Linked DNA regions of Homo sapiens. The protein of the gene in region 1 interacts with the protein of each later gene in a pairwise test. Each region holds a gene or a part of one and is shown in the gene's direction. Other genes may lie near its edges. The genes, in order: UBAC1, MGAT3, PLAAT2 and TRIM2.

Region 1 (5,937 bases):
GTCGCCGTGGCCGCGGCTTACCTCTCTGCTTCCCGGTAGAGTTTTGCCGTATTTGTGTCTCCTTAAACAATCTCTCATTTGCTGCTGCCTTTGTGTAAGTAGAATCATGTTTTAAGCAGGCCTCTGTGACTGACTGCGTTCTTTGTGGGGGTTGTGGAGTATTTTCTTGATGGAAGGCACTGGGAACCCAGGGCTCGTTGGGTTGTCTACATGTGGTGCCACTCCTGATTTTTTTTTTTTTTTTTTTTTGAGACAGAGTCTCGCCTTGTCACCCAGGCTGGAGTGCAATGGCATGATCTCGGCCCACTGCAACCTCCGCCTCCCAGGTTCAAGCAATTCTCCTGCCTCAGCCTCCTGAGTACCTGGGATTACAGGCGTGCACTACCACGCCTGGCTAATTTTTCGTATTTTAGTAGAGACGGCTTTCACCATGTTTGCCAGGCTGGTCTCGAACTCCTGACCTCGTGATCCACCTGCCTCAGCCTCCCTAAGTGCTGGGATTACAGACCTGTTGGTCCCCAGGAGCTGAGTTCCTGGATGTTGGGAGGGCCTTTGCCACCCGAGCAGGCTGGAAGTGTCTCTGGAGCTGCGATGGCCGTGCCCTGATCTTGAAGGCTGGCCTTCTTTCAGAAGCGTATTGGCCGCCTGTAGAACCTTGGCTGTGAGAGACCTTCCGCTCAGCGTTTGGCCTGCTTTTCTCTTGGATTGTTTTCTTATTCATTCAGAAAGGTCCTCACCTCCTGGATGCTGACCCTTTTCCCATTATTTGTGTTGCAGATGCCGTTGTTCAGTTTCTGGTTTATTTCCTCACACTGATGGGCAGAATCCCGTGTTTTGATGTCCTTCAGTGTGTCTGTATTTTTTTTAAGATGTGAACCTTTAAAGAAAACCCTCCATGGCTGGGCGTGGTGGCTCACGCCTGTAATCCCAGCACTTTGGGAGGCTGAGGCAGGTGGATCACGAGGTCAGGAGTTCAAGACCAGCCTGGCCAAGATGGTGAAACGCTGTCTTTACTAAAAATACAAAAAATTAGTTGGGCATGGTGGTATGCACCTGTAATCCCAGCTACTCTGGAGCTGAGGCAGAGAATTGCTTAAACCTGGGGGGCGGAGGTTGCAGTGAGCCGAGATCGTGCCACTGCACTCTAGCCTGGGCGTCAGAGCAAGACTCCACCTCAAAAAAAAAAAAAAGAAAAAGGAAAACCCTCCTATCCGAAAGTCAGAAACACGTTTTCCTTTTATTTTTTTTTCCAAAAATGTTAAAAGTTTCTCTTAATTTAAGTCCATAATCTACCTAGAAGTATGTGTGTGGTGTGAGGTAGGGATCTTCTTTGTACCCAAATTCTAAAACTTGAGAATGGTCTTTTGTGAGTTTATTTTTATTCTTAGTGATTCCTTTCACACTGAAAGCATATTCCTCCTAGCTCTCCAGCTGTTTGTATACCTTAGGATGTTAGTGTGTGCTGCCTTGGGGTCTGTCCAATAACTTTTTCTTTTTTTTTTCCTAATAGAAATAGGCTCTTTCTCTGTCACCCAGGCTAGAGTGCAGTGATGGCGCCACTGTCCATGCAAGATCTGCCCCCAGCACACACACTTGCCCACCTCCATATTATAGACAAGACCTTCATTGTTTTAACTTGTATTCCTCTTTTTTTTTTTTTTTTTGAGATGGAATCTCGCTCTGTCACCCAGGCTGGAGTGCAGTGGCACGATCTCAGCTCACTGCAAGCTCCGCCTACCGGGTTCACGCCATTCTCCTGCCTCAGCCTCCTGAGTAGCTGGGACTACAGGTGCCCGCCACCGTGCCCGGCTAATTTTTTGTATTTTTAGTAGAGACAGGGTTTCACCGTGTTAGCCAGGATGGTCTTGATCTCCTGACCTCGTGATCCGCCCGTCTCGGCCTCCCAAAGTGCTGGGATTACAGGCTTGAGCTACTGCGCCTGGCCACTTGCATTCCTTTTGGTTATTAGCAATGTTGAATACTTTTCTGTTGGCCATTGCATTTCTTCTTTTACATACTGTCTATGCGTGTCATCTATTTGTTTTCCTTCTTTTTATGGAGACAGGGTCTTGATCTGTCACCCAGGCTGGAGTGCAGTGGTACAATCACAGCTTACTGCAGCCTTGACCTCCTGGGCTCAAGTCATCCTCATGGGTAGTTATGACTACAGGCATGCACGACCATGCCCAGCTATTTTTTTTGTTGTTGTTGAGATGGGGTCTCGTTTTTTTGCTCAGGCTAGTCTTGAACTCCTGGCTTCAAGCGCTCCCCCCACCTCTGCCTTCTAGAGTGCTGGGATTGTAGGCGAGAGCCATTGTGCCTGGCACATGTGTTTTTCAATTGCAATATTAATCCTAGAGCTTCCTTAATAGCTTCTTGGATATTAGGCACATCTTCCTTTGTTGAATGTTGTAAACTGTTTTTGCTCTCTAATTTTGTGTGGCATTTTCTGACATACAGAAGTTAGGATATACAGAAGACAGTCCTTCCTCAGGTTGGGCATGGTGGCTCATGCCTGTAATTGTAGCACTTTGGGAGGTTGAGGCAAGAGGATCACTTGAGCTCAGGAGTTCGAGACCAGCCTGGGTAACATAGCAGGACCTCCTCTCTACTAAAAAAGCAAACAAACAAAAAAACAAAATCAGCCAGGAGTGGTGGCACACGTACCTGTAGTCCCTGCTACTCAGGGGACTGAGGTGGGAGGATCATTGAGTCTGGGAGTTCAAGGCTGCAGTGAGCCATGATCACTCCACTGCACTCCAGCCTGGGCAACAAAGCAAGTCGCTGTCTCAAAAAAAAATTAAATTCAAAAAGGAAAGTCCTTCCTCAGATAAATAATCATCTGTGTGGTTTTTCATATTTAACTCTTTATCTTTTTGTTCAACTCTTTCATCCTTCCAGAATTTATTTTGCTGTTTATTGAGAGGAAATGGGAAATTAAGTTCCCCGCCCTGTGTGTGAAACAGCTGTTTCGCACCTTATAGTTTGTTCTTTCTGAGTCTTTTTCTGGGATTTTTATTTTTATTTTTTGAGACGGAGTCTCACTCTGCTGCCCAGGCTGGAGTGCAGTGGCGCAATCTCGGCTCACTGCCAGCTCCGCCTCCCTGGTTCATGCTATTCTCCTGCCTCAGCCTTCCGAGTAGCTGGGATTATAGGCGCCTGCCACCACGCCCAGCTAATTTTTTATATTTTTAGTAGAGACAGGGTTTTACCGTATTAGCCAGGATGGTCTCGATCTCCTGACCTCATGATCCGCCTGCTTCGGCCTCCCAAAGTGTTGGAATTACAGGCATGAGCCACCGTGCCTGGCTTTTTCTGAGATTTTAAAGTGGTTTTTGGAGACTTTTAATCAGAACACCAGAGGATTGTTTTAAGGCCTGGGGATTGTCCAATCATGAACAGAGCCAAGTTGGGTTCACTCTGAGCTCTGTGCTCAGCCATGGGCTACTGGGCCGTGAATGGCTGTGAATTCTGTAGTGAGCACTGTCCCTGGAGCCTGTAGACCTGGGGCCACTTATGCTGAAGTGCGTCCATGTGTGTCAGGTCAGCATGGAGCCATCGATCCTGGCAGAGGGGCTGGCAGAACGCGTGCTCCTTCACAGTGGGTGGAACAGAGAGCTTTTTGCTAAAAGCCACCTGTTTTGGGGAAACAGTTTTGTAAAGCTGTTAAAACCCAAGTTTTCATTTTGAAGAAGTGCTGTGTTGCATTTTTAATGTGCTGGTTTTTTGAAGAAGGAATTTTCTGAAGGCTGAGCATTACGTTTTTCCAGTTTGTTGTTAACTTTGCAACAGTGTCTGTGTGTGTCCTTTCTGCATCTGCTGACCTTCTCGGGGTGGGATTGGAAGTGGAGTTGTTGGGGAAGATGATTTTTGAGCCCTGGCGGCTGCCAGACAGCTGCCGAGAGTGGGGGTGCCATGAGCACGCACAGGCACACTGCCCACCTGCCAGAATTGAGTGCATGACTCTCTGTGATCAGATCTGATTTGATGGGTGCATCCGATGGAGTTGGGTGGGTTTCAGCCTGAGAGTGCACACTTAGCAGTGAGCTCTGTGTGGCCTTTGTATTGGAGACGCACCCTCTTCATTAGGAAGCTGCCGAAGAGGAAAGTCACGCCTGTGCCTGTGGGCTGAGTGGGGGCGTGGGCACTCAGGCTGGCTCTGTTTTCCCTGCAGCATTTGAAGACATGCTGGAGAACCCACTGAACAGCACCCAGTGGATGAATGATCCAGAAACGGGGCCTGTCATGCTGCAGATCTCTAGAATCTTCCAGACACTAAATCGCACGTAGGTGGCGTTGTTCCACTCGGCTATCAGGCCACAGCAGCCCCCTGGTGCGGCCCGAGACCGGGCAGAGTGGACCTCACCTGGAAACTCACCTTCAGCGCCTCAGCCCTGGACTGTTAGAGGTGCTGCAGCTGCTCCTGCTCTCTGATCTTATTGCTTATAAACTTTGGTGACGGTAGTGTGTAAGGCCGTATTTTTAGCATCTGACAGGTGTTTACAAAAAAGTGGTTGTCGCACTGGGAAGTGGAGTGATGGCCTCGTCTCCAGTGCTCCTCTGGGCTCTTGAGTTGCTGCTTGAATTGCCGTGTAGACATTTGCTTGGAGAGTCCACTTGTTATTTGACGGAGGTAGGTTTCAACCCAGAGTTAATGTCAAGCATGCTAATTTAACTAGTCACTCACAGATGACTTTTCTTTAATAAAGTCCCTTTTCCTATTTCCTGTCTTCGTCTTTTCTTGGTGCCGCACAAGAAACCCGTGCGTCCCCGAGAGGCCACATCCCCGCGGCTCCGTGCCGGCTGCTCTGACCCGGGGCGGGCACCGGGGCCACCGCAGCATGTGGGAGGCCTTGTGGCCATGTTTGGTTGGCAAAGCCTCGTGTTGTATTGGGTTTAAGGGACTGGAGCTGAGCCCGTATTCCTGGGACACAGGTCCTGAGCCCAAGCACGGCTGCCTCCGCCTACCTCTGGCCTCTTCCTCCTTTTTTTTCATTTTAAAAAACATGACCGGTGTCTTAAAATGAGAAAATGAATTTATTTTGTTTTTTGTGAACTCTGCTCATTATTGTTGCTGGAAGCAGTCAGTTCCGAGCTGTTTGTTTTGAACTTCTCTTCTGAACCAGCCCCCTCCCCTTCTGAACTCTGCTTGCATTGTAGCTGAGTAAGAATGTTTTCGGAAAATGTTTCTCTCCACACATCTAGGTCTTTTCATTGTTTTTGAGATTTAGATTTAAAACTAAAGTTAATTTAAACTCTTTGGGCAGAAATATTAAAAATGCTTTTCAAAAGTAATGAATCTCGGCCGGGCGCGGTGGCTCACACCTGTAATCCCAGCACTTTGGGGGACCGAGGCAGGCGGATCACGAGGTCAGGAGATCAAGATCATCCTGGCTAACACGGTGAAACCCCGTCTCTACTAAAAATACAAAAAATTAGCCGGGTGTGGTGGCGGGTGCCTGTAGTCCCAGCTACTTGGGAGACTGAGGCAGGAGAACGGTGTGAATTCGGGAGGCGGAGCTTGCAGTGAGCCAAGATCGCGCCACTGCACTCCAGCCTGGGCGACAGAGCAAGACTCCGTCTCAAAAAAAAAAAAAAAAGTAGCGAATCTCACTTCTTTTTGAGACGGAGTCTCAAAAAAAAAAAAGATGCCTGTCTACTACCCTGCTGCCAGGCCACAGGCCCTCGGCCCGCCCCACGTCAGCAGGGTCTAGCCAGCCACAGTGCCCTCCTTGCCCGCCATCCTCTTTTGGCAAACTTGTGAGTCGGAAGAGAATGTTCTCCTCAGCGAGTTTAAGAGTCAAAGTTGGGAAATTCCTTCCGAGGAACCTCTGGACAGGTGTGTCCTCAGCCCGCCTCCTGCGGGCTGTGGAGCCGTGCTTTCCACGGGTTCGCTGGCTGCCTGGCTCATCTTGCTGTGGCCTGAGCGTCCACAAG
Region 2 (8,457 bases), on another chromosome or scaffold:
TCCCACCTACTCGGGAGGCTGAGTCAGAAGAATCGCTTGAACCCGGGAGGCGGAGGTTGCAGTGAGCCAAGATCACACCATTGCACCCCAGCGTGGTGACAGAGTGAGACTCCGTCTCAAAAAAAAAAAAAAAAAAAAAAGGCAGAGAAATTGCAAGCATTTCAGAGGGCTGCCAGTGGATGGGACAAGCTCAGCTGAATGGAGTGTATGTGGGGGAGGGTAGAAAGGGGACAGATCTGACTTCACCTGGCCAGTGTTGGGGAAGGAAGTCGCCAACAGAAGAACAATGAGTTTCACAAATTTGGAAAGGAGAGCTTTATTTCTCATAAAGGGTTGCAGCCTGCAGGGCAGCCATTCTGACAGGCTGGGAAGCATAGCTTCCAGCCAGAAGCCAGGAACACATGCTTCAAGGGAGGGGCAAAGGGAACAGGAATTTATACAGAGCAGGGTGGCTGAATATACATATTTAATAAGCTATAGGGGGAGTCATGAATATTGATGTAAGGAGAAACAGGGACCTGTGCAATTAAGCTTCATGCCCCTTAGTGAGTCACACATGCAAAAAAATGGTGGCGTTAGTGTGATCGCAGGGTGTTTTTCAGCCCTCTGATGTCAAAAGGTGAAGCACAGGACCCTACTGTGTGCCAGGCCTCTGTGAATGCGGGAGGGGAAAAGAGTGACAGGGGCTATGTGGGAGGAAGGAATTGGGGGCTGTGTCCCCTTCTGGCCAGCTCTCAGGCAGGCTCCTGGCACCACAGGGCCTGAGCTGGGAGGGTAGAGGGTGGAGGGTGGGGCCTGGTGTGCCTGGCTGTGCCCGGCTGTGCCCAGGGCTGGCTGTGTGCGACTGAGCAAGTCACTTATCTCTGACGAACACCTTCACTGGGCGTCCACTTTAGACTGTCTGGACAATGGTTTCTTATCAGGAAGGGATGATGGTCAGTTATTGTGTCAAAACTGCAAAAGAGGGATAGCATCGGACAGCTGGTTGGTATCAGTGGTGAAGTCTTTCAAAAGGGCTGGTTTCTGGCTAGCCCTAACCGTCAGCAGGCTTTCTTCCCTAAGGAAGGGGTTCAGGAGGGGCTGTATCGAGGAGTGTCTGACCTCCCATTCTGTTGTAGCCAAGCACTCAGCTTTCAAGGTTTCTCTGGGGTTCCCTTGGCCAAGACGGGGGGCTGTTGGGGGGCTTGGGATTTCATTTTAATTTCTCAAAGGACCCTTTATCAAACACCTTCGGTGCTGCCCAGCACCACCTTGTCACACATCCCACCTCCCTCACCCTCCCCACACGCTGTCAGGTGGCCACCTTTATGCCCACTCTGCAGACCAATGGGCCTAGGCTTTGAGTGTGGAGCCCTGGCGCAGCTCGGAGGGCCCCGACCGGAGCCAGCTCACTCTGCCCACTGCACCGCCATGCTCCCTGACCACCTGGAGCCTTGGCAGGGCTGGGGCTTGATGGCTTGGTTCTCTCTTTCTTTCTTTCTTTCTTTTTCTTTTTCTTTTTTGATAGGGTCTCACTCTGTTGCTCAGGCTGGAGTGTAGCGGTGCGGTCCTAGCTCGCTGCAACCTCCACCTCCCGAGTTCAAGGGATTCTTGTGCCTCAGCCTTCCCAGTAGCTGGGACTACAGGCATGTGCTACCACGGCCGGCTAATTTTTGTATTTTTAGTAGAGATGGGGTTTCACCATGTTGGCCAAGCTGGTCTCAAACTCCTGGCCTCAAGTAATCCGCCTACCTTGGCCTCTCAAAGTGCTGGGATTACAGGCGTGAGCCATTGCGCCTGGCCTGTGGCTTGGTTTTCATGGCATGGGTGAGGAGCCTCCCCACCTGGAGACCCAGGGCCAGGAGTGAGATGCCCCAGGGAGGTGGAATGCGGCTCCCACAGGCCAGGCAGCAGCTGCTGAAAGGGTAACAGACCTAGCAATTGTTCCCAGAGCCAAAAAGGCCTGGGTGAAAGGGGACAGCAGGGCTGTAAGGAGACACCGCCTGAGATTGGCTAATCTTGTATCTGGGCTTTTCCCACCTCCAGCTCCCACAGCCTCCTTGTCAGGCAGCTCAGCCCCTAGAGGAGCAGTGGGGCAAGAGGGCCACCAACCACCCTCCCCCATATCACCATGGAGCTTGGAGCCCCAGCCTCCCCCACGTCATCGTGGGGCCTGGAGGACGGCTGGGAGAGGATGGAGAGAACCAGATTCCATTGATGTCAATGCGATGTCAGGGCAGTGATTCGTCCCATTCTGCAGATGAAGATACTGAGGCTTAGGGATTGAAATGACTGGAACACTTGGCGAGCTGGCATAGAACCCAGGTCTTAAGCTCCCTGGGATTCAGCTTCTCCACCTGCTGAGCACCTCCGTGCCTACTGTGTGCCAGGCCTCTGTGAATGTGGGAGGGGAAAAGAGTGACAGGGGCCATGTGGGAGGAAGGAATTGGGGGATGTTTACCCTTCTGGCCAGCTCTCTGGGAGGGAGGCTTCTGGCACCACAGGGCCTGAGCTGGGAGGGTGGAGGGTGGGGCCTGGTGTGCCCAGCTGTGGCTGTGTGACCGAGCAAGTTACTTATCTCTGACAGGCTGGGCGTGGGGAAGATGTACTTGCCACACAGCGCCCAACACACTGAGTGCCGCATTGAGGACATGGAGGCGGACTTTGGTATGAACCCAACAAGGCTGACTCCACTTCGGCCTCCCAAGAAGCTTGGGAATCTGGAAAGGTCAGGAGAACAAAGACCCAAGCTGGGGGAAGATGGAGAGCAAGCAAGTCCCCTGACCCTGGCCAGCTCTGGGCAGGGCAGCTTCCCTGGGGAGTGGGGCGTGTCTTTACTTCTCACTGGGCCTCAAGGGCAGGGGCTGGGGCTTGGGCAGGTCCTCCTCCCCTTTGCCAGGAGCAATGGAAATGGAGGAATGTGATTATTTTGTGCCTGCCTTCGTGCTTGGGGGCCAATGTCAAGGTTTTCTTGATGCTCAGAACGAGTTCAATGGAGAATCCAGACTTGAAACAGCACTTCTTTCATGGGCTGAGGGACGCCCAGAGTTGCTGCTGAAGGCTCAGGGAGGGAGAGAAGGTTCTGGGGAAGGAAAGTGTCTGTGAGGCGGTCCCTTCCAGAGGGGAATGAGTCCCAGGCAGGGAGAGCTGTGGCATGGGGAATTGGGGGAGGGGGACACATTTGAGCAGAAATTGAAGGTTCTTTGGGGGCCGGAGAAGAAGGGGCAGAGAGGGTTGAACAGCCAGGCTGGGGAGAGGAGGAGGGCAACATTTTTGCAGGGCAGAATAGACTGGATTTTGGGGGAGTGACAATTACCTTAAGCACATGTCATGGAGATGATTTATTTTTTTTTTGAGATGGAGTCTTGCTCTGTTGCCCAGGCTGGAGTGTAGTGGCATGATCTCGGCTCACTGCAACCTCCGCCTCCTGGGTTCAAGCAATTCTCCTGCCTCAGCCTCCCGAGTAGCTGGGATTACAGGCGTGTGCCACCACACCCGGCTAATTTTTGTATTTTTAGTAGAGATGGGGTTTCATCATGTTGTCAGGCTGGTCTTGAACTCCTGACCTTCTGATCCACCTGCCTCAACCTCCCAAAGTGCTGGGATTACAGGCATGAGCCACCATGCCCGGCCCATGGAGATGTTATAATGGAATGTGCTTAGAGTGATAGGAACTAGGAATGGATCTTACACTTTCAAATGGTTGGGAAAACATCAAAAAATGTTTCTGGACACGTGAAAATGACACGAAATTCAAATTTTTGTGTCCATAAAGTTTTATTGGAACACCGCCAGGCTCATTCTTTTACGTATTGTCTATGGTTGATTTTATGCTACGATGGCAGAGTTGAGTAGTTGGGACAGAGACCATATGGCTGGCAAAGCCTAAAAGATTTACAATCAATCTCTTAAAGCAAATGGTTTGCCCACCCTTGCTTAGAGAGAGCCTCCAGGAAGAAAAGAGCAGTGAGGGTGACGTTGAAGAAGGGGGCAAGACTAGGTCACCAGGGGCTCCCTGTGCCCCGCCCAGGCACTGAACTTAAGCTGAGGGCAAGTGGGAGCCATTGAAGGTGCAGGCAGGAGAGTGACCTGCTCAAGTGAATGTTGGAGTAGGATCACTCTGCCTCCTCAGCAAGGATGGATGAAGCTGGGCACGGAGGCACCTGGAGCAGGTAGACCAGCCCTAGGCAGCCCGGATGGTTCAGCAAAGGCCTCTGGGACTATTCTGGAGCACATTCGCTGGGATATAGAATAGGTAGCGCATCCCTGCACCTTCGACGATGGCGGCGCAGAGATGTCTGCTGCGTACCCACAATGCCTTGTGCCTCGCACCGCGGGAGGAAGTGGCTGCTCTGTAGGCCCCAGAACGGAACCACTTGAAAGGCGGGAAACACGTGGGGGACGCCTCTGAGCCCTGAGAGGAATGGCCTAGAGCAAGGCCACGAGGAGCCAGGGCACGACACGGTGGGCCCTCGGAGAACCGCTGGTGGGCAAGTGGCAGGAGAGTAGGCTCAAGAGGGTTGGCAGGGCCGACCGGGCCTAGGGTGGCCGGGTGAGGGGGGCGGGGGAGGGGAGGCCCCCCCAGTTACCCCAGGAGTGCGCAGGTGGCTTCGGGCATGTGAGGGACGGAGGGGGTCGGACGGAAGGACACAGGCCGGTGTACAGCGGTCACCCACGCCCCAAGCAGACACACAGACTCTGCAGACACCGTAACAGGCCCGGCACCGTGCACACATCACAGGCCCAGGCCTCTGCACATGGTCACAGATGCCTATGCGAAATCCCGGCCCAGGTTCACGCGGGCACAGGCGCATCCACGCACACACCGCAACACGGATCTGCACGTCCATGCACACACAGGCACAGACTCGGGCACACGGAGTCACACCGACCCGGGCACGCTGCGGAACGCACCCGTCCACGCATACACAGAACGGGACTTGCTGCCCCGCACGCACACCAGGCCCGCACTCCGAACTACCCGCATTCCCCGCACACGCCCCCGCGCAGGCCGCCCCGGGCCGTGGGCCGGCGCACGCACGGTCACAGGAGGGGCGCGCGCACACTCGCACTCACACACACTCGCTCGCACACGCACACACTCGATCCAGCACGCGCGGGCGGCGCGGGGCGGCGGCGGCCGGAGTCTGCGGTGCGAGGCGCCCCCGGCCCGGCGCGGCGGCGGAGCCCGGCTGGCGGGGGAGGGGAGGGGGTTGCGGAGGGGGCGGGGTGGGGGCCGGAGCCGCTTGAGCCGGCGGGAGCGGGCACCCCTGCGCGCCGCGCTCGGCCTCGCCTCCGCGCCCCCCGCGCGCCCGCCGCGGTCCCTCCCCCGCGCCCGTCCGCTCGCCGGGCCCCCGCCGCCGCCCCGGGGTGCAGCCGAGCGGCCGCGCCGGGTCCCCGGGACGGGGTGGAAGTGGGGGTGGGGGGAGGGGATCGGGGCCGGGCCGGGGCCGCGCTGCCTGCGATGCCGGGCGCCCGCCGCAGCCGCTGCCGCCGGAGCCCGGGATGGGGCGAGAGGCTGCGGCGGACGCCAGCATCTCCCCGCCGGGGACCCCGGGGGCCGCGGAGCCGCCGCCGCCGCTGCTGCCGCCGTTGCTGAGACCCAGCGGGCGATGGGTGAGTTGACCCCGGCGTCCTGGGGGGCGCCGCGGCCCCTCTATCCCCGCGCTGCCCGCCCTCCCGCGCTGCGCTTGGCGCCCCCCGCCCGGCTCCGCGGCCCACTCCCCGAGCGTGACCTTAGGGGGCGGGCGCGGGCGCACTGGGGCTGGGGGCCCGGAGGCCGCGGTGGGGGCGGGATGCCGGGGAAGCCGCTCGGCGCGGGCCCCCTCCCCCTACCCGCCGCTCCTCCGAGCTCCCCGGTCCCCGGAGGGCAGAGCCTCAGCGCCCGACCCCCTCCCACGGCCGGGCGGGGGACGTCCCCGAGGCGCGGGGCTCGAGCCGTGCTTTGTGCGCGGCACCCCCCAGCCTCCGGCGCGGCTCCCCCACAACCTCCGGCGCGGCGCGGGGCTGGGGTGGGAGGCCTCCGCGCCCGCCTTCCCCACCCCCGACCCCAGACTGCGGCGGCGGCAGCCGAGGCCCAAGCGCAGTCGGGGGCTGGGCGGGTGCGGGGGCTGCGGCCGTAGCTACCCCTGGGGACCAGGCAGAGGCAAATGTGGAGAGGGCCCCCGGCCATTTACCGGGGTGGGGGCCCCCGGCTCCTTGCATTGCTCTGCCCAGGGCGGGGGAGGGAACCTGGCTGAGGGAGGGCGCTATAAATATCTGCAAATAGTGAGTTCTGGAACCGGGAGTGGGGAGGGGAGTGCGCCTGGGTGTGTGTATGGTGGGGTTCCTGAGCTGGGGTGCAGCAGGAAGGGATGCCGCGCGGCCAGACCTAGTGGTCTGAGGTCGGATGACCCCCAGCCCCGGAAGATGCCCCTGAAGGCCCCTGATGGGGTGTGGGCAGACACACTACCCCAGTGGGATTCCTCCCTGGTTCCCCACTTCATTCCTGGGACACACCAGTCCAGATTCGCCTTGATGGGGGAGTTGTGAGCACTGGCGTGTCGTTTGGGGAGGGGGAGCAGTTATGAAAGATCCAGACATGGAGCCCAGCAGAAGGATGGAGGGGAGAGCCCCCACCCCCAGGAGCTGCAGCTCTGAGGGGGTTTTCAGTCTAAGGAGTGCTAAGGGGAGCCGCTCTGGGTCCTAGGAAGGTTTGAAAGAGGGGTCCCAGCCCAGGAGGAAGAGAGAGGTTACTGGAAGAGATGACGACAGGAAGCTGCCAGAGATCTCTGGGTAGAGAAAGGTGGGAAGGGCGTTGTGGGCCAAGGGAATGGCATGAGCAAAGGCTCAGAGGTGTGAGTGTCTGGCGTGTGTTGAGAGGTGGCAGTGGGAACAGTCAGGCACTGTGGGTGCCCCCTGGAAGAAGTGAGATGAAAACGGGGCAGAGGCTGGGCAGGGAGGCCAGGTGGAGGTGAGGTGGGAGGGCACAGCAGGGAGCTGGCACTTGGTCCTGAGGACGGCAGGGAGCCAAGACCTGGCTGGGGGGATGCCGCTGGCTCAGACCCATTCTAAGGGTCTGCCTGGTGCCCTTGGTGTGGTCAGGGCTACTTGAGGCACACTGGTGATTCCTTTTTCTTTTCTTTTCTTTTCTTTTTTTTTTTTTTTTTTTGAGATGGAGCCTCACTCTGTCGCCCAGGCTGGAGTGCAGTGGTGCCATCCTGGCTCACTGCAACCTCTACCTCCTGGGTTCAAGCAATTGTCCCACCTCGGCCTCCCGAGTAGCTGGGACCACAGGTGCCCGACACCACACCCGGCTAATTTTTGTATTTTTAGTAGAGATGGGGTTTCACCAGGTTGGCCAGGCTGGTCTCGAACTCCTGACCTCAAGTGATCCACCCACCTTGGCCTCCTAAAGTGCTGGGATTACAGGCGTGAGCCACCTCGCCCAACCCTGATGATTTCTTTTTCTGTAGTAACTGGACCACCTCAGGAAGTCAGCTTTCTGAGCCTCGGTTTCCACATCTGTGAAATGGGGAGGTTTTGTTTTTGTTTTTGTTTTGAGACAGGGTCTCACTCTGTGATCCAAGCTGGAGTGCAGTGGTGTGATCATAGGTCACAGCAGCCCCAACCTCCTGGGCTCAAGGGATCCTTCTGCCCCAACCTCCTGGGTAGCTAGGACTACAGGCGTGAGCCAACACACCCTGCTAATTTTTTAAAAAGTTTTTAATAGAGATGAGGTTTTGCTATGTTGGCCAGGCTGGTCTTGAACTCCTGGGCTCAAGTGATCCTCCTGCCTCTATGTCCCAAAGTGCTCGGATTCCAGGTGTGATCAAATGGGGGAGAATTTTGAATGGAATGAGTTGCAGAGAGGGTTGAATGAGAGGATGCACACAGGGTGCCTGGCACCTGAGCAGCACTCAAGAGATCGCTGGCTGCGGTATTATTACCTGGAAAACGAGGATGCCGATGCCAGCTGGCGGGCCAGGCCAGCTTCACTGGGCAGCGGCCATGAGAATCACGAGAGGGCTGGGCTGGACGTGAACGGCAGAGAGCTGAGGGTGGGGGAACTGCGTGGTCCTCATGCAATTCTGGGAAGACTACATAAGCAGTGAGGAGTGGCCAGAGGCAGGGTGGTCTGCAAAGACAGCCCCTCTTGGCCTCATGGGCACCCACCCGCCCAGCCAAGTCATTCAGGGTATCCTGCTGTGCTCCCCAAGAGCCAGAGCCCCTTTGCTCCCCAGAGTGCAGTGATGCAGCCCCTCATCTTAGCCATCTCCAAGCCCTTCATGTGGGGACCAGGTCTTGGAACACAGTGTCCTCAGGTAGGGGTAATAATTTACTGTGCTGGACAGAGAGGACATAGGCCTTGCCCTGAGGAGATTAGAATCCATTGGGGAGCAGATACCCCTGGCACCGATGCTCCACCTAGCCCTGTGCTGGCTGCTTGGGGGCAAGGAAAGAGTCACTAAAAGTAGGGATTCCAGATCTAGTGGCCCG
Region 3 (8,866 bases), on another chromosome or scaffold:
ACTCAGCCTCCTGAGTAGCTGGGACTACAGACTTGCACCACCAAACCCAGCTAATTTTTGTATTTTTAGTAGAGATGGGGTTTCACTATGTGGGTCAGGATGGTCTTGATCTCTTGACCTCGTGATCCGCCTGCCTCGGCCTCCCAAAGTGCTGGGATTACAGGCGTGAGCCACCGCACCCGGCCAATCTGGTGGTTTTATAAGAATCTGGCATTTCCCCTGCTTGCACTCACTCCATCCTGCTGCCCTGTGAAGAAGGTGCCTGCTTCTCCTTTGCCTTCTGTCATGACTGTAAGTTTCCTGAGGCCCCCCAGCAATGTGGAAGTGTGGGTCAATTAAACCTCTTTCCTTTATAAATTACCCAGTCTTGGGTATTTCTTCATAGCAGTGTGAGAATGGACTATATACAACCTCCAGTGATTGTTGACAGGAGTCAGGATAAGTAAACTGTGGCACATTCCCATTTGCCACATGGGAGTACCATGCAAATGAATGAATAGCTATGGCCAATCAACATGGGTATGAAACCTAATATTGAACCAAAAATATTGTTATGGAATGCTTGATGTTTGATTCTACTTTTACAAACTTTAAAAATTATAAACTAAATGTATATTGTTAAGGATTACATTTATATATTATTAAGGGATGTGTTTATAAAAAAATTTAAAAATCAATAGGACAATAGAGACAAAATTCAGGAGAGTGGCTACAACTGCATTAGGAGGAAGAGGAACACAGGGTTAATTTTTTTGGTAATAGCTTCACTGAGGTATAATTTACATACTGTTGACGGTGATTGTGAGACCTCTGTTCTTGTCTTCTTGGTTAAAATAATTTTAACAAGAGACACAACCATAGAGGAACAACAGAAAGCAATGTATTGCAAAAGAGAAAGAACACTCTGAAAGCTGAGTGTAAAAAGAAACAGCTGAAAGTAATTTAGTGCAAAGATAAAACTCTGAAAGATACACTCTGAAAGGTACACTCTGAAAGATAAGTCAGAGTGGGCTGATCAAGAGTGAGTCAGCAAAGACTGGCTCTGAGGGAACTCCCTTTATGAGAGTCTTATGTGATTATTCATAGTGGGTGGGAAGAGGTGTGTTCCTAGTAATCATGTTCTGGGTGGTCCTCTGGGTGCACATGAGCAGTTGCTGTACATGCTTGTTCATACATTGCATGTCTCATTGCCGTCTTAAATCTCTACCCAGGGGTGTGTTTTTTACTATTATAATGAGCAAAGGGTCATTCTGAGGACAAGCAAAGTGAAAATGCACATGCTCTCTACAGGGGAAAGTCCCCAGTGAAGGTAGTTCTGCTTGGATGAGCTTGATTACAATGTGAGTGCTGAGGTTTGTTGTGTTGTTGGTGCGGTTGCTATGTCCCAATGAACATGGTTACAGGGCTCATTGTGCTGTTGACAGTGTGGTTGCCATGTCCCAAGGACGTGGTCATCTCCTTGACTATCTATCCTGCCTCAGTACCATATAGTTCACTTACTAAAGTATATAATTCGATGCCCTTTAGCATGTTCACAGTCATGAAACTATTACCACAATCAACTTTAAAACCTTCTCATCACCTAAAAAGAAACACAACCTGAATCCCCTAGCCCTTCCATCCCTAAATAATCATTACAATCATGAATTTGCTTTATGTCTCTGTGTGTTTTCCCATTCTTGACAGTTCAAATAAATGGAATCATATACTATATGGCTTTTGTGACCAGCTTCTTTCACTTATCATGTTTTCAAGCTTCCTCTATATTTTAGCATGTATCAGTACTTCCTTTTTATGGCTGAATAATATCACATCATACGAATATACCACATTTCGTCATTTATTCGTCAGTTGATGAACACTTGGGTGTCACCTTTTGGCAATTATGAATAATGCTGAGTATTAGTCAGGGTTCTTCAGAGAAACAGAACCAATGGGAGGTTATCTATCCATCAAGATTTCTTTTTTTTTTTTTTTTGAGATGGAGTCTCGCTCTGTCACCTCTGCTGGAGTGCAGTGGCGCCATCTTGGCTCACTTCAAGCCCCGCCTCCCGGGTTCATGCAGTTCTCCTGCCTCAGCTTCCGGAGTAGGTGGGACTACAGGTGCCCACCACCACGCCCAGCTAATTGTTTTTTTTTGTATTTTTTAGTAGAGACGGGGTTTCACCGAGTTAGCCAGGATGGTCTCAATCTCCTGACCTCGTGATCCGCCCGCCTCGGCCTCCCAAAGTGCTGGGATTACAGGCGTGAGCCACCATGCCCGGCCCCATCAAGATTTCTTACAAAAAATTAGCTGCTGCAGCAATCACAGAGGCTGAGAAGTCCCACCATCTGCTGTTTGCAGGCTAGAGACCCTGGAGACTCAGGAAAGGCAGTGGTATCATTCCGTCTGCGTCAAAAGACCTGGGAATCCAGGGAGCCGATAGAGTAAATCCCAGTATGAGGGCAGAAGATGAGGTGAGCTATCTCAACACAAGTAGTGAGGCAGACGAAAAGGGGACGAATTTCTCATTCCTCTAGCTTTGTTCTAATCAAGCCCTCAACAGATTGATGCTCCCCACTCACATAAGGGAGGGTCATCTGCTTCACCCATTCCACCAATTCAAATGCTGATCTCATCTGGAAGCACCTCAACAGACATGCCCAGACATCACACAGCATCTGGGCACCCCATGGCCCTGTCGGATTGACACAACAAATTAACCACCACGGCTGCTATGAACATCTGTGGACAGGTTTTTGTGGGACACAGGGCTTATTTAAGAAATTGGTTATTTTCTATTTCTTCAACTAGGTTTATTGGTACCTGTTTTGTTATTATTTCTAGTGTTTTATACTTATGTTGCAATTATTCTTCTATATGGATATAAGATTTAATAAAATCCTTTATTTATTTATTTATTTATTTCTGAGACATAGTCTCACTCTGTAACCCAGGCTGGAGGGCAGTGGCGTGATCTTGGCTCACTGCAACCTCTGCATCCCAGGTTCAATAGATTCTCCTGCCTCAGCTTCCCGAGCAGCTGGACTACAGGCGTGCGCCACCAAGCCCAGCTAATTTTTGTATTTTTAGTAGAGACGGGGTTTTGCCATGTTGGCTAGGCTGGTCTCGAACTTCTGACCCAAGTGATTCACCCACCTTGGCCTCCAAAAGTGCTGGGATTACAGGCATCAGCCACTGTGCCCGGCCAAAGCCCATTAAAATTATATGTAGCCCAAGATATTCCTGGCATGTACATAGAAAGATAACATTGCCTCTAGAAAGGGGAACTGGGTTGCTGGAGGCTGGAGGCTGGAGGTGGGGAGAATGGAGGCTTATCTTTCCTTTTATAGCCTTTTATACAATTAAACAAACATAGAGAGCGTGCATGTGAACAAAAATGTAAGTATTCCAGGCTGTAGGCCTAGAGCTTACCAGCAGGCTGGGTGTGGCCTGCCCTACCCTGTTCTCTGTCAGTAGAACTTTGTCACCTTTCCTGCTCAGCATGAACAGTAGGGAGACAGCAGAATTCTCATTCCACTGGCCCTTGATTTGCAGACTCTCCTTTCCTATAGCTCCTGGACATAATTTCCTGACACTCTGAACAGCTTGGATTCGGTGAAAAGCCACAAGCCCCAGCATGAGTACAGTGATGTTCCTCCCCAACTCCGCCCTGCATGGTCTGGTTGGTCATTGTGCCAACCCACCTGAGATCCTTTCAGCAGACAGCACGTGGAAGTCCTCCTGCCCCAGGAAACAGGGGTGTGATGTGGTTGCAAGGGGAGGGCAGGCATAGGAAGAACTGAGATTGCTGGACTGGAGGTCAGCCCCTAAAAAGATGATCAGCAAGCCTGAGTGGGACCGGCCCAGAGGTCTCTGGACAATGGGGCAGGAGATAATTAGCCAAGCCAACCCTACTGTCTCCCTCCAGAAGGAATACTTTGAAGATTGTCCCACTGCAACTCAGAGGAGAATGGAGTGGAGGTGCTGAGAGAGGCCGTCTCCATGGGAGCAAGACCACATGACCACGTGAGCTGAGGGAGTAGCTGGTCATGCAGAACTGCTGTGGCTCCCAAAGAGTTTTCCAGTTCTGGCTCCAGTCCATCTGCATCCCCACACTAAAGCTCTTTGTTTGTTTGTTTGTTTATAGCCTGAAGAGGGTAAGTTATTGGTCCTCGCCCCCATGCCCCACAGTGAGGATGCTCAGCTCCCCCCAGCCCCACCCACCCCTTCCTGTCCAGTTTGCTCAGGACCGGACAACTATATGTAGATGACAGAAGAGATACTTATTTGGAGCTTGGGTGAGATAAGCATGCAGGTGCCTCAAAGAAGCAACCTCTACACACCCAGTACTGGGTTTTGGTTTCCATTTGGTGTGGAATGAGTGTTTCTGAACTGTGGGTGAGAGGCAGAAAGGGGAGTGGTTTCTATACTGCTGTCCAAGCAGGCTCACTCTGTTTCCAGGGTAGAGGAATGTGCCTCCAATAATACGATTTTTCTAGGGCCATGGGGTTTGAGGTTGGTGGAAATGTTTGCCTGTCCCGGCAACCATCATTCCCAATTTGGAGGCATGAATCTCAGTCTCTCTGGGGCTCCTCTCTCCTTTTTGAAATTTTCCCCCATGGTCTCTGTCTCTATATCCTCCCTTGCCCCCACAACCACTGGATCTTGCTTGTTCCACCTGAAACTTGGTGATTGTCAGCTGTGCCCCTGACCACACTGCCACTAAGTCCTTCTCAATCTATATCCTGAGCTCTGATTCCTCTTCTGTCTGGCTGATTTTCATGCCGCCTTGCCTACTTGATATGTGCTCTGCCCCTGTTTGAAGACAGGGAAAATTTTACATGAACCTTGATCTATGTTCTGTTTTTTTTTTTTTTTTTTTTTTGACTGAGTCTCGCCCTGCCGCCCAGGCTAGAGTGCAGTGGCACGACCTCTGCTCGCTGCAAGGTCTGCCTACTGGGTTGACGCCATTTCCTGCCTCGGCCTCTGGAGTAGCTGGGACTACAGGTGCCCACCACCATGCCCAGCTAATTTTTTCTATTTTTTAGGAGAGACGGGGTTTCACCGTGTTAGTCAGGATGGTCTCGATCTCCTGACCTTGTGATCCTCCCGCCTCAGCCTCTCAAAGTGCTGGGATTACAGGTGTGAGCCACCGCACCCAGCCTATGTTCTGAAATAGTTGTATATGGGCTGGGTCACAGGGAAAGTGAAACTCAGAGCTAATTTAAGGCTGGACACAGAGTCAGCAACACACAAGACATCATCTTGAAGGAAGGATGGCTTTGGTAAGTCCCCAGAAACGGTTTTAAAGCTTTGATTTGAGGAACAACCACCCTATTAGTGATGATTATGTGTATTCTTGTTGGTCTACAGCTCTGGCATGGAGGGCACATGGGCACATGCTGAGTTCTGGGGGTCTGGCTCTCTCAGACACTGTGGGAAGGAACCACGGTGCTGGGTTATGACCCTGGAGGCTCCCCAGCCTCAGCTGCCGCATGGGGTCTGGTTCTACTGTGGCCAAAGTTTGCGTTTATGCTTTTCCAAGCCCTCCTCTGGCCAAACTACCAGTGGCTCTGCTAAGCCTCCTGAAGGCAGGAATGGTGGGCTCAGGGAGAGCAGCCCTTGGTTTACCCCACAGGCCGCCTCCTCTGTCACATCATCCTCAGTGGGAGGGATTAGCTGGGGAGGGAGGGTCCAGGGAAAGGGCTCCAGCTGTGTGGGTGGCAATGGGGGCTGTCAGAAAGGGCTCTGTCTCCCTCGCCTCCAGGCAGGGCCAGTCCCTCTACTTTCCCTCCTTCCCTCCAATTCCTTCTTAGTTTCCTTCTTCCTTTAGACCCAATAGCAGCCACATTTCCCAAGTGCTCAGGGGTCCAGACACCATGCTAAACACTTCTTTTATTTAATCCACACCAGGTAGTTAATAAGCAATCCTATGAAGTAGGCATAATTACTGCCAACTTCATGGATAGGAGGAATGATATACTGGTAAGTATAGAGAGGGGGCTGCCCAAAAGTCAGAGAGGGAATTCGAACTTAGGAGGCTCTGACTCTAAAGCTTCGACTTAAAAAAGAAAGAATGTATTTAATTCCAGGAGAAATACGTGAACACATTCACTTTGTCTGAAAAACCGAAACTCTAGCCTGGGCAACATAGTGAGATCCCATCCCTACAAAAAATATTAAAATTAGCCAAGGATAATGGTATGTGCTTATAGTCCTAGCTTCTTGGGAGGCTGAGGTGGGAGGATCACTTGAGCTGGGGAGGCTGAGGCTTCCTGCAGTGAGCTGTGATAGTGCCACTGCACTCCAGCCTGGGTGACAAAATGAGATCATGTCTCAAAAAAAGCCAAAAGCCAAAAACCAAAACTATTAGCATAAAAACTAATGTCCCCTTTGACCATCCTTCCCATCTGTACAGCCTTTCCCCTCTGTACAACCTGGTGCGTATTCTTCCAAATATTTTTCTGTTTTTGCATACATATATGGCTACCTTACAAGTATTGGTTTGTAGCTTTGGGGTTTGTTGTAGTTTTAAATTGCATTCCGTGAGGACAATTCAGTTAGGAAATGCTTGAATCTTTTCCTTTATTTACCAGCTTTTGGAATAATAGGGTGATTCTTTTCCATCCTCCAAAGATGCCTAGTGTTTTTAAAAAATATCCTTATGAACACGTGGGTTTTAACATATTTGATGTGTTTCAGTTTGTGTACAGTTATTTTTATTATTTTTTTTTGATGCTCAAATTGTCCCTTATTTGGTCAAGTTGACTCTTGACCCCTCTAGTCAAAGGCTTTACTTTTTTTTAAATTTCGAGGTTCTGGGGGGGAACATGTGGTATTTGGTTACATAAATTAGTTTTTAGTGGTGATGTCTGAGATTTTGGTGTACCTATCATCTCAGCAGTGTACTCGGTACCCAATGCGTAGTCTTTTTTTTTTTTTTTTTTTTTTTTTTTGTGATGGAGTCTCACTCTATCGCCCAGGCTGGAGTGCAGTGGCACGATCTCTGCTCACTGCAACCCCTGCCTCCCGGGTTCAAGCAATTCTCATGCCTCAGCCTCCCAAGTGGGTGGGATTACAGGCACCTGCCACTATACCCAGCTAATTTTAGTATTTTTAGTAGAGATGGGGGTTTCACCATGTTGGCCAGGCTGGTCTCAAACTTCTGACCTCAGGCAATCCACCCATCTCGGCCTCCTGAAATGCTGGGATTATAGGCGTGAGCCACCACACCCAGCCCCAGTGTGTAGTCGTTTATTCCTCACCCACTCCCACCCTTTTCCCTCAGTCTTCAGAGTCCGTTGTATGATTCTTATGCCTTTGCGTCCTCATAGCTTAGCTCCCACTTACGAGTGAGAACATAGGATGTTTGATTTTCCATTACTGAGTTATTTCACTTAGAATAATGATCTCCAATTCCATCCAAATTACTTCAAATGAAAGGCTTTACTTTTAACTATAGCTCCCCACCAGACTTTGAGTTGGCTGGCACTCTCACCACCCTCGGCAGCAGTTCAACTCCTTTGTGGCTTGGCTCAGCTGAGATAGGGGGAGGAGGGGTGCTGGCTGGCACCAGAGCATACCGGAAACAGAATTTATGTGGCAAGGGCTGTCTCCCATTCTGGGTGTGGCCAGGGCAACATTCCTCGCACCCATGCACCCTCCAGAGGGGCACTGCCCTACCACCAACTCCAAACACACCCTGCCATCCCTTGCTTTAATTTTAGCCTGAGCTCAGACTTCAGCTGCCCTGGGCTTGCCTAGGACATTCTGGGATGGTTAAAGGCATTAATGTTGGAAACATTCAGCCCTACCCTTCATTCCTGCTCTTCTACTTATTAGGCAAGTTACCTAACGTTCCTGAGACTCCATGTGCTCATTGTCAAGTGGGGGTAATGATAGTTTTCACCCAAAGGAGTGGTGTGTAATGTGGGTCAAGTGTCCGCCTGCCTCTGACATGTTGGGCGTTGCAAGTCAGACCTCTAGAACTTGTAGGAATCACTTGGGCCCAGGCTCATGGCAGGTGGCCCTTAAAGAGGCATTTTAGGCTTCCTTCGGAATCATGCAGTCACTAGCTGACAAAAACATACTCTGTGCATAAAATGCACTCACACTCAGCCTGGGCACATCACTCCATCACACTCCTGTGCTGCACATGCATGAAAATCTCCCTCAAAGATACTCTCTTCATCTCCTCCTTGTCCCCTGAAGAGCAACTTTTCAGTCCTGCAGCCCCAGTAAATGAAGGTGCTTCCTACATATGTGAGGAGTGCTCCCTCCTTCCTGTTTCCTGCAGGTGATGAGCACAGGGAATCTGCAGGCTGAGCTGGGGCTCCTTGCAGGTCAGGCCCTAGAATGTTTCCTGCAGATGGCTCACCTCTGCCTGTTTCTGGTTTTTCTGTTGCAGGCCAGACCAAGACCGAGACTTGGAGACCTGATTGAGATTTCTCGCTTTGGCTATGCACACTGGGCCATCTACGTGGGAGATGGCTATGTGGTCCATCTGGCTCCGGCAAGTAAGGATGGGTTCTCTTTTTAAGCACAAGGGTTAAGATCAAGAATGTGAAGAGATGCACAGTTACGTGCTTGTCCTCACTTCAGGGTCTAGCAGAGTAGGCACTCAATACATAATGCTGAATGAATTGTGCTTTTTCCTGCTAGATGTAGCAACTGCTATTCTTCTTTTGCAGTAAATTGGTGGAGAGACTATTGACCTTTATTCCATTATAGAGTGGGGTTCAGTCTGAACCAACTCACTGTACTTGGTGAGCATCCCTCCGTGGGATCTCCTATGTATTTGTTGTTATGGAGGTACAAGCAAGAGTAAGAAGCAGTTGCTTCCTTCAGATAGCGTACAACTGAGCACATAGTATAACGGAAGGA
Region 4 (8,032 bases), on another chromosome or scaffold:
GGACTACAGGCATGTGCCACCACGTCCAGTTAATTTTTTAAATTTTTTTCTAGAGACAGAGCTTTGCTGTGGTTCCCCGGCTGGTCTCAAACCCCTGGCCTCAAGTGATCCTCCCACCTTGGCCTTCCAAAGTGCTGGGATTACAGGTGTGAGCCACTGCACCCAGCTGAGAAATGTTTTTGAGCAGAGAATGCATACAAGAAATTTCCAGTTAATGTTTCAAGCCTATTCCTAAAAGGCCTGCAGAGGAGCAAAGTACATGAAATTACAGCCTTATATGACAAAAAAAAAAGTGTCTTTATATGACAAAAAAAAAGTGTCTTTCTAAACCTCTTACTATGTACCTACTTGAAACTATGATAAATATGAAATTTAAAATTATCTTGGACATGGTTTGAATGACTTTTATCTGAATTTGGTTCACCAGAAAAGGTTTTTTCCAAAACACATGTAGTATGAGCAAGCTGAGTGCTTTATTCCTAGGAGAATCTTCTCCAGAAAGCACTATGTAACATAGTGAGTCTTAATGAGGAAGGAGGTGTCCCTTGGTTGGTCTTACACATGCCACCCGAATCATGGCTAAGAGCCTCCTCTCATTTATTCATTCAGTAGTGTTATTGAATACCTACTAAATGTATGGTATTATCTAGGCTCTGGGTGGGAGAGTTCCTGGGCTTAGGAATTTAAAATCTTTTATTTCATAAATTGGGTATAAATAAAAGTGATTTGGTGACTGCCTTCACTTTGTGAAAATCCATCAAGCTGCATTAAGATTTATGCCCTTTTCTGTATTGTGTTATATGTCAAGAAAAAGTTCCTCCTAAAAGTGCTTTGGGAATTGAAAACTGGAAGACATTATTTCCAGCTGAGAAAACAAGGTAATACCTCTGCAAGGAAGCTAATTTTCTGGCTTTATATTATATTGTTACTGAAAGTTCGTCATTGTCAGGGTCATATTTTTTTATTTTCAGGTAAGCAGATGATGTCATCATCATCATCATCATCATCCCCACAGCAGCTACTACATATTAAGAACTTATTATGTACCAAAGCCAGGTGCCATCTGAGTTCTTCGTGCATACTAACCTACTTATTCTTCATAGTAGCCCTGTGAAGTAGGTTACTGTTACTATCTCCATTTGACAGAGACAGAAGTTGTGACACAGTGAGGCTGAAAATTTGTCCAAGGTCATTCAGCTAAATAAGTGGTGAAGCCAGGAGACAAACTGCTCAGTCCAGACTTCTTATTTGGATAAGTCTCTTAGCCAAACAGTAGCAGTTCTCAAAGTGTGGTCCAGGAACCCTTGTGGGTCCCAAGACGTTTTCAAGCAGTCTTCAAGGTCAATACTATATTCATAATCATATGAAGACATTATTTGCTTTTTTCACTCTCGTTCTCTCAAGAGTGCACAGTGGAATTTTCCACAGGCTATGTGATGTATGCTATCACAATGGACTCAATGCAGAAGTGGATACAAGTCTCCAGCCATCTTCTGTTAAGCCAGACGCTGCAGATATTTACAAAAATGGAAAACAATACCATTTTTCCCACAAATTTTTTTGTTTTTCACAATATATTTATTTTCATAAATTACATTATTCACATTAACATTTAATGGGCTTATTACTGCTTTTAATAAATTAAATACTTTAAAATTTTTATCCGTTCTAATTTTTAAAAATTTGATTAAATACTAATTTTAAAATTTTTTGTAGAGACAGAGTCTCGCTATGTTTCCCAGGCTGGTCTTAACTCCTGGCCTCGAGTAATCCTCCAGCCTTGGCCTCCCAAAGTGCTGGGATTATAGGCATACGCCACTGCACCCAGCCTAGTTTCAATTTTTAATATAAGAAATATCTATAAATATAACCCACATACACGAAAGCTCTTTTGGAGTCCTCAATAATTTTTAAAGATTATAACGGGGTCCTGATATAAAAATGTTTGAGCACCACAGCCCTATACTGTACTGCCTTGGGGCAGTGGATACCCAAAAGCTGGTTTTATGGTTATAGAAGCAGCTTAGAAGTCAGCTCCATTTCTGAGACCTGTCACATAAAAATGTGTCCTTCCTTTTCTCCTGTGAAGCTGGACTTAATAATGCTGACATTCTGGGGTGGCTCTCATTTAATTATGAGAGACTGCAAGGCAAGTGCTTAGTGTAGAGTAAGCCCTCAACCCATGGCCCAGAACCAGGAACTTTTCTTGTGTCATCCACAGGTGATGGAATTTTACTGCCAGTCCTGTGAGACTGCCATGTGTCGGGAGTGCACGGAGGGGGAGCACGCAGAGCACCCCACAGTTCCACTCAAGGATGTGGTGGAACAGCACAAGGCCTCGCTCCAGGTCCAGCTGGATGCTGTCAACAAAAGGTGGGGGACCCCTCCCCAAACCCCCAACTGGCTGCCTGTACTTGAGGCCTGGCCTCATGGCCTCTTGTCTAGGTACAAGAGTAGGTTCATATTTCCCTTGAGATATCAGGCTTTGTGGGTAAATAAGTTCTTTTATCATGGATTTGTTGTCATAAACTAATGAGTGAGGAAGGTTGTCTTCTGCCTGTTGGTAGAACTCCAGCCTCCTTATGAGTGGCATTTTTGTTTTAGTACCTAAGTATGATTACATGAATTAAAGTACACTCAAATAAACTGCTCTCAGGAGAGTTCTGAAATTCATCCCTGAAACCAGGCTCTCTGAGGAGCCTTCCTTATCTGCTGTTCCTGACACACATACAGGCCATTTTGTTGGCTGTGATTGGCTCCTTTCTGTCTGAGCTCTGCAAAATGGTCTTGAGCAGTGATTGCTAATTTTCCTTGTTTTCCTGCTTCCAAGTTCCTTCTTTGGCACAGAAATGAAAGAACAGAGTAGCTGAGTGGTGCATGAAAAAGACCAAAGAGAGGAAATGAGAAGCCAGCAGAAAAGCAGACAAAATAAATCTCTCCACTGATAGCTGTAGTGAGAAAAGTGTGGTTGTTCTATAGTAATTCAAAGAACTTGGAAACTTACGAGAAGTTCTCAAGAAACTGGGTTTGGATAAATGTTTTATGTGGCTAGGGTAAAAGATACAGCTATCTAGAATAGTGGTTCTCAGCCATTCGGCAATGCCTGGAGACATTTTTGGTATCACAACTGTGTGTTTTGGCAGGGGGTTGGGGAGAGGGAGGCAGGGCGGGGAGAGCTATTGGTATCTGGTAGAGGACAGGCTGCTGTTAAACATCATACAATGCACCAGACGGCCCCTGCAACGAAGAATTAACCTGGCCAGAATGGCTTTTCAGAGAGCTTCAAGTCTATACACTTAATTAATTATTAAAATTGGACAATTGATGGTAGATTGAAATTGACAATTTTGATTGTCTCTGAAGAGACAAAATCTCTTCTCTCTAAGGCAGTAATTATGTCATATCTTATTCTGTTCTCTGGTTATTGTTTTTTTAAAGATGATGAAAGGCATAGAATTTTTTTAAACAAAATGTAGTGTTTAGATAGATTTTGGAATATTTCTGGGTTGAGGTTAAATAACGACCTTTAACAACTGTCCACCAGGCTCCCAGAAATAGATTCTGCTCTTCAGTTCATCTCTGAAATCATTCATCAGTTAACCAACCAAAAGGCCAGCATCGTGGATGACATTCATTCCACCTTTGATGAGCTCCAGAAGACTTTAAATGTGCGCAAGAGTGTGCTGCTTATGGAATTGGAGGTCAACTATGGCCTCAAACACAAAGTAAGACCAGAATCATTACAGATGTCCTGGAAGAGACATGATATCCAAGGGCACTAGCTTATTGTTTCCTAATAGCAACAAGGGGTCCTTAAGTGTCATCATTGTATAGTAAACTATAGTTTTCACTGAATGTAATATCCAGCTATTTTTTCCCCTATTTTCAGCAAAATTCGATGACTCTGTGACTTTAAGTACTAGTTTATAATTTGACAAGAGGCAAGGTTGAATATAATGTAATGCTTTTAGCATTTAGAGTTAAACTGGATTGTTTTCATTCCTCAGTTATAACATGAAATAGTTTCTTAATTGCTCTCTCACCCACACCAACCTGTTAGTCAGCTTCAAAATGAACCCTGACTGCAGCCTTTGTTTAACTCTGCATGTCTGTTCACAAAACAGGGATGAGAAACCTCTGATGTTCAGGTGTGGAGAGTTTTCATTTGTTTACTTCCTGTTCCTTTAGGTGGTGATGGACATGGGGACATGGGGAAAGATACTGAATAATGAATATTTCAGATGTCAGGCATAGCAATTAATTTGCTATGCTCTTGGTAGTGACCTTTCTGTTTTCCCCTCTCCAAAACACATGAGCCAAGAAATACATGTGTGGAAGAGAGGGCGAGGCGGAAGGGAAACCTCGAAAAGGTACTGGGAATGCAGTTTAGGACTTTGCGTTAGCACTGGGTTCCCTGGGTTGACAAACACCGCTTGCTCAGAGCCACCTGCGTGGGCAGGTGTAGAGTCTCCTTCTCGCCGGTGGAGGGCACTGCCCCGGGCTAGGCCCCGCCCTGTGGGACGAGCTCACCAGGCCTCCGGTTTTCCCGCAGGTCCTCCAGTCGCAGCTGGATACTCTGCTCCAGGGGCAGGAGAGCATTAAGAGCTGCAGCAACTTCACAGCGCAGGCCCTCAACCATGGCACGGAGACCGAGGTCCTACTGGTGAAGAAGCAGATGAGCGAGAAGCTGAACGAGCTGGCCGACCAGGACTTCCCCTTGCACCCGCGGGAGAACGACCAGCTGGATTTCATCGTGGAAACCGAGGGGCTGAAGAAGTCCATCCACAACCTCGGGACGATCTTAACCACCAACGCCGTTGCCTCAGAGACAGTGGCCACGGGCGAGGGGCTGCGGCAGACCATCATCGGGCAGCCCATGTCCGTCACCATCACCACCAAGGACAAAGACGGTGAGCTGTGCAAAACCGGCAACGCCTACCTCACCGCCGAACTGAGCACCCCCGACGGGAGCGTGGCAGACGGGGAGATCCTGGACAACAAGAACGGCACCTATGAGTTTTTGTACACTGTCCAGAAGGAAGGGGACTTTACCCTGTCTCTGAGACTCTATGACCAGCACATCCGAGGCAGCCCGTTTAAGCTGAAAGTGATCCGATCCGCTGATGTGTCTCCCACCACAGAAGGCGTGAAGAGGCGCGTTAAGTCCCCGGGGAGCGGCCACGTCAAGCAGAAAGCTGTGAAAAGACCCGCAAGCATGTACAGCACTGGAAAACGAAAAGAGAATCCCATCGAAGACGATTTGATCTTTCGAGTGGGTAAGGAGAGGGCTTCTGTGCCCGACGCCTGAGCTGGCACTGGTTAAGGGGTAACTGGGCACGTGTCATTGCAAATAGCAACACTGCAGCCCAGAACTCTACCTGCAGGTGTTAGGAGATGTACTGCTATAAAATTTGATATATTTTGTTAGTCGAGCTTATGCAGTCTCCTCCAGAGATGGTATTTCCTTCTCCTCCGCCTCTAGTCTCCTCCCTACTCCCTCCTTTCTCTTCTTCCTCTTCCTTAAGACACAAGTGCTGCATATTCATTGTAGGAAATTACAAGCTGAAAATAAGCAAAAAGAGAAATAGAAAAATCATAGCACCCGTAATCTGAAAATCTTGAAGGAAAAATTGGCAATCCTCCCCCTAACCCCCACCACCAACGCCCCTCTTCCCTGGGAGGGTCTTCTTGTGCCAGAGCTGAGGCTGTACGGTTGGCAGAGCATGTGATGCCTCCCTGTCACTGCATCGGCATTGCAGGAGGGAGGGGATGTGTGCATTGCAAGTTGCAACCACCTCCAGCTGTGTGTAGCTGGAGAGCAGCCCCAAGGAGAGGAGGAGGGGTGGAAACTTGGAGAAAGAATGGGGTTGAGGCGGGGTTGGGGTGGAAGCAAGAAGGTACCCGATGAGCCAAGAGAGTTAGGAATGCAAATAGCCCTTCCCTCCTCTGATTTATGGTCTCTCTCTTTTTAAACTTTCTATGTTCTCAGTAGAAAGCAACTAAATGTAAACAGCAAAGGGCTTGATGATTCTTAAGGGAGAAAAGTCTGCATTTTAGTTAGCTTCAAAAAGTAGCTCCAGCAGACTTCTTTTCCTCCCTCTTCCATTTAACAATGCAGTATCTCTGAAAGAGTGCTGCACTGTATATTAGCTGGCACATGTAGAAAAACAATTCTATGGTTCAGATAAATTTGGGAAACCTTAGGCTAAATGAAGGAAGTGGACTTTTTTAAATTGCAGAACTTCTTAAAACCTTTAGAATCTGCTGATGTACATTGTAGGTCTCTGAGGCAGGAGAGGGATAGATAACAGGCAGCACATCCAAACTTCCAACCATAGAACTTTTTCCCTGGAACGTCTTGGGAAATGAAGGCTCTGTGGAACGTTCTTGGGCAGAGCTGCTCAATGTTAATGCTTCAGGCTGAATCTTCGCAAAGACGGTGATATGATATGTAACTTGTCTGTTCAGAGCATGGAAGCCCTCATACATTCACGGCCAGATGTGCGATATGGGTGCAGGGGTTGTTGATTCTCCACCAGAGCAGAGTGGACGAGCTTGGGTGGATGCAGGACTGGGAGGCGCCCAGGTCTGCCACTCCGGTTCAGCCACTTACTTGAGCCTTGGGCAAATCTTTCAGCTTCCCTGTACTTCAACTTCTATGTCCATGAAATGAAAATGCAAAAATATCTGCTTATCAGAACTATTCTAAGTTCCAAGCTGAATGCCTGACATGTAGGAGGAGCTAAATGAATGAGAGCTATTGTTTTTGTACATGTAATTGTTAAGGCTTTTAGATTATCCCTACTACCTTTTCTTTTCAAAAAACCTGCTGGCTCCCCACTGATCTCTTGCATTACGAACAAATTCATTTTCCCATTTAAACCTCCATCCCCCACACCTCCCACCAAGTGACCCCAGTCTACTCCCCTAGGCCATGTGCAGTGAAAGACTCAGAACTGGAATTGGGCAGATCTGGGTTGGAATCTTGATTCTTCTCACCAGCTGGGCAACTGGCTTACTTACCCTTTTTGAACAGTGTTTTCTCCTCTGTAAAACAAAGGGAATGAAATATTACCTAAATCTTAAGGTTGCTGTTGGGGGTGAAATGAGAGAATTCTTGTAATATACGTGGCATGTGCCTGTGTACAGCAAGAGCTCAATTAATGGTAGCTAAGATTTTACTCTTGTTATTCATCATCATCATCATCATAATCATCATCACCTCTGATACCCACTTGAGGAAAGAGACATGTCTTTCAGGAGTTTCCTGTGCTCAAACTATATTGGTTTTGATTCTCCAGATCCCACCCCAGGGACAAGGGGGTATATCTTCTCCCCTCGTACCTACTGAGAAATGCAGCCATAGTGATGTATTGGCACTGCTGGAAAGGTGTTGAAATGTGTAAACATTTGTGAAGAACTTAGAACAGTGCCTGGCATGCAGCACGATGTCTGAGTTTATCAATGAAGTAAAGATGCTGTCTTAGTTTGCTAAGGCTGCCATAACAAAATTCCACAGTCTGAGTGACTTAAATGATAGACATTTATTTTCTCACAGTTCTGAAAAACTGGAACTGTTTTAGAGTTAGAAGTCCAAAATCCAGGTGCTGGGAGGGTGGGTTTCCTCTGAGGCCTCTGTCCTTGCAGATGGCCACCTTCTTGCCTCTTTGTCCTCACATAGTCATCTCTTTGTGGCTCAGCCCCTATTGTCTCTTCCTCTTCTTATAAGAACACCAATCATACTGAATTAGGGCCCCGCTTTAACAGCCTCATTTTAATTTAATCACCCCTTCAAAGACCTAATCTCCAAATATGTATATATTCATGGTGTACAACATGATGTTTTGATATATGCATACCTTATTGAATGGCTAAATCAGGCTAACATATGCATTACCTCACATATTGATCAATTTTTTTATAGAGAACACTTACAATCCACTCTTTCAGCAACTTTCAAGTGTATATAATATATTTCTTTTCTTGTTATTGAAACAGGGCCTTGCTCTGTTGGCCAGGCTGGAGTACAGTA

Evidence for each region.
Region 2: the proteins of UBAC1 (region 1) and MGAT3 interact in binary tests that used the Homo sapiens proteins (3 or more experiments, as listed by UniProt).
Region 3: the proteins of UBAC1 (region 1) and PLAAT2 interact in binary tests that used the Homo sapiens proteins (3 or more experiments, as listed by UniProt).
Region 4: the proteins of UBAC1 (region 1) and TRIM2 interact in binary tests that used the Homo sapiens proteins (3 or more experiments, as listed by UniProt).

What each region holds. Positions count from the first base shown.
Region 1 is NC_000009.12:135,931,753-135,937,689, reverse strand, and holds the end of UBAC1 (ubiquitin-associated domain-containing protein 1), read left to right. Parts: intron 1-4,174; coding exon 4,175-4,290; 3' UTR 4,291-4,721; downstream 4,722-5,937.
Region 2 is NC_000022.11:39,451,963-39,460,419, forward strand, and holds the start of MGAT3 (beta-1,4-mannosyl-glycoprotein 4-beta-N-acetylglucosaminyltransferase), read left to right. Parts: upstream 1-5,049; 5' UTR 5,050-5,595; intron 5,596-8,457. UniProt on the Homo sapiens protein: It is involved in the regulation of the biosynthesis and biological function of glycoprotein oligosaccharides.
Region 3 is NC_000011.10:63,559,718-63,568,583, reverse strand, and holds the start of PLAAT2 (phospholipase A and acyltransferase 2), read left to right. Parts: upstream 1-5,204; 5' UTR 5,205-5,259; coding exon 5,260-5,268; intron 5,269-8,390; coding exon 8,391-8,499; intron 8,500-8,866. UniProt on the Homo sapiens protein: Exhibits both phospholipase A1/2 and acyltransferase activities. Shows phospholipase A1 (PLA1) and A2 (PLA2) activity, catalyzing the calcium-independent release of fatty acids from the sn-1 or sn-2 position of glycerophospholipids.
Region 4 is NC_000004.12:153,290,761-153,298,792, forward strand, and holds part of TRIM2 (tripartite motif-containing protein 2), read left to right. Parts: exon of another isoform or gene 1-53; coding exon of another isoform or gene 54-146; exon of another isoform or gene 147-878; intron 879-2,221; coding exon 2,222-2,373; intron 2,374-3,544; coding exon 3,545-3,725; intron 3,726-4,552; coding exon 4,553-5,276; intron 5,277-8,032. UniProt on the Homo sapiens protein: UBE2D1-dependent E3 ubiquitin-protein ligase that mediates the ubiquitination of NEFL and of phosphorylated BCL2L11. Plays a neuroprotective function. May play a role in neuronal rapid ischemic tolerance.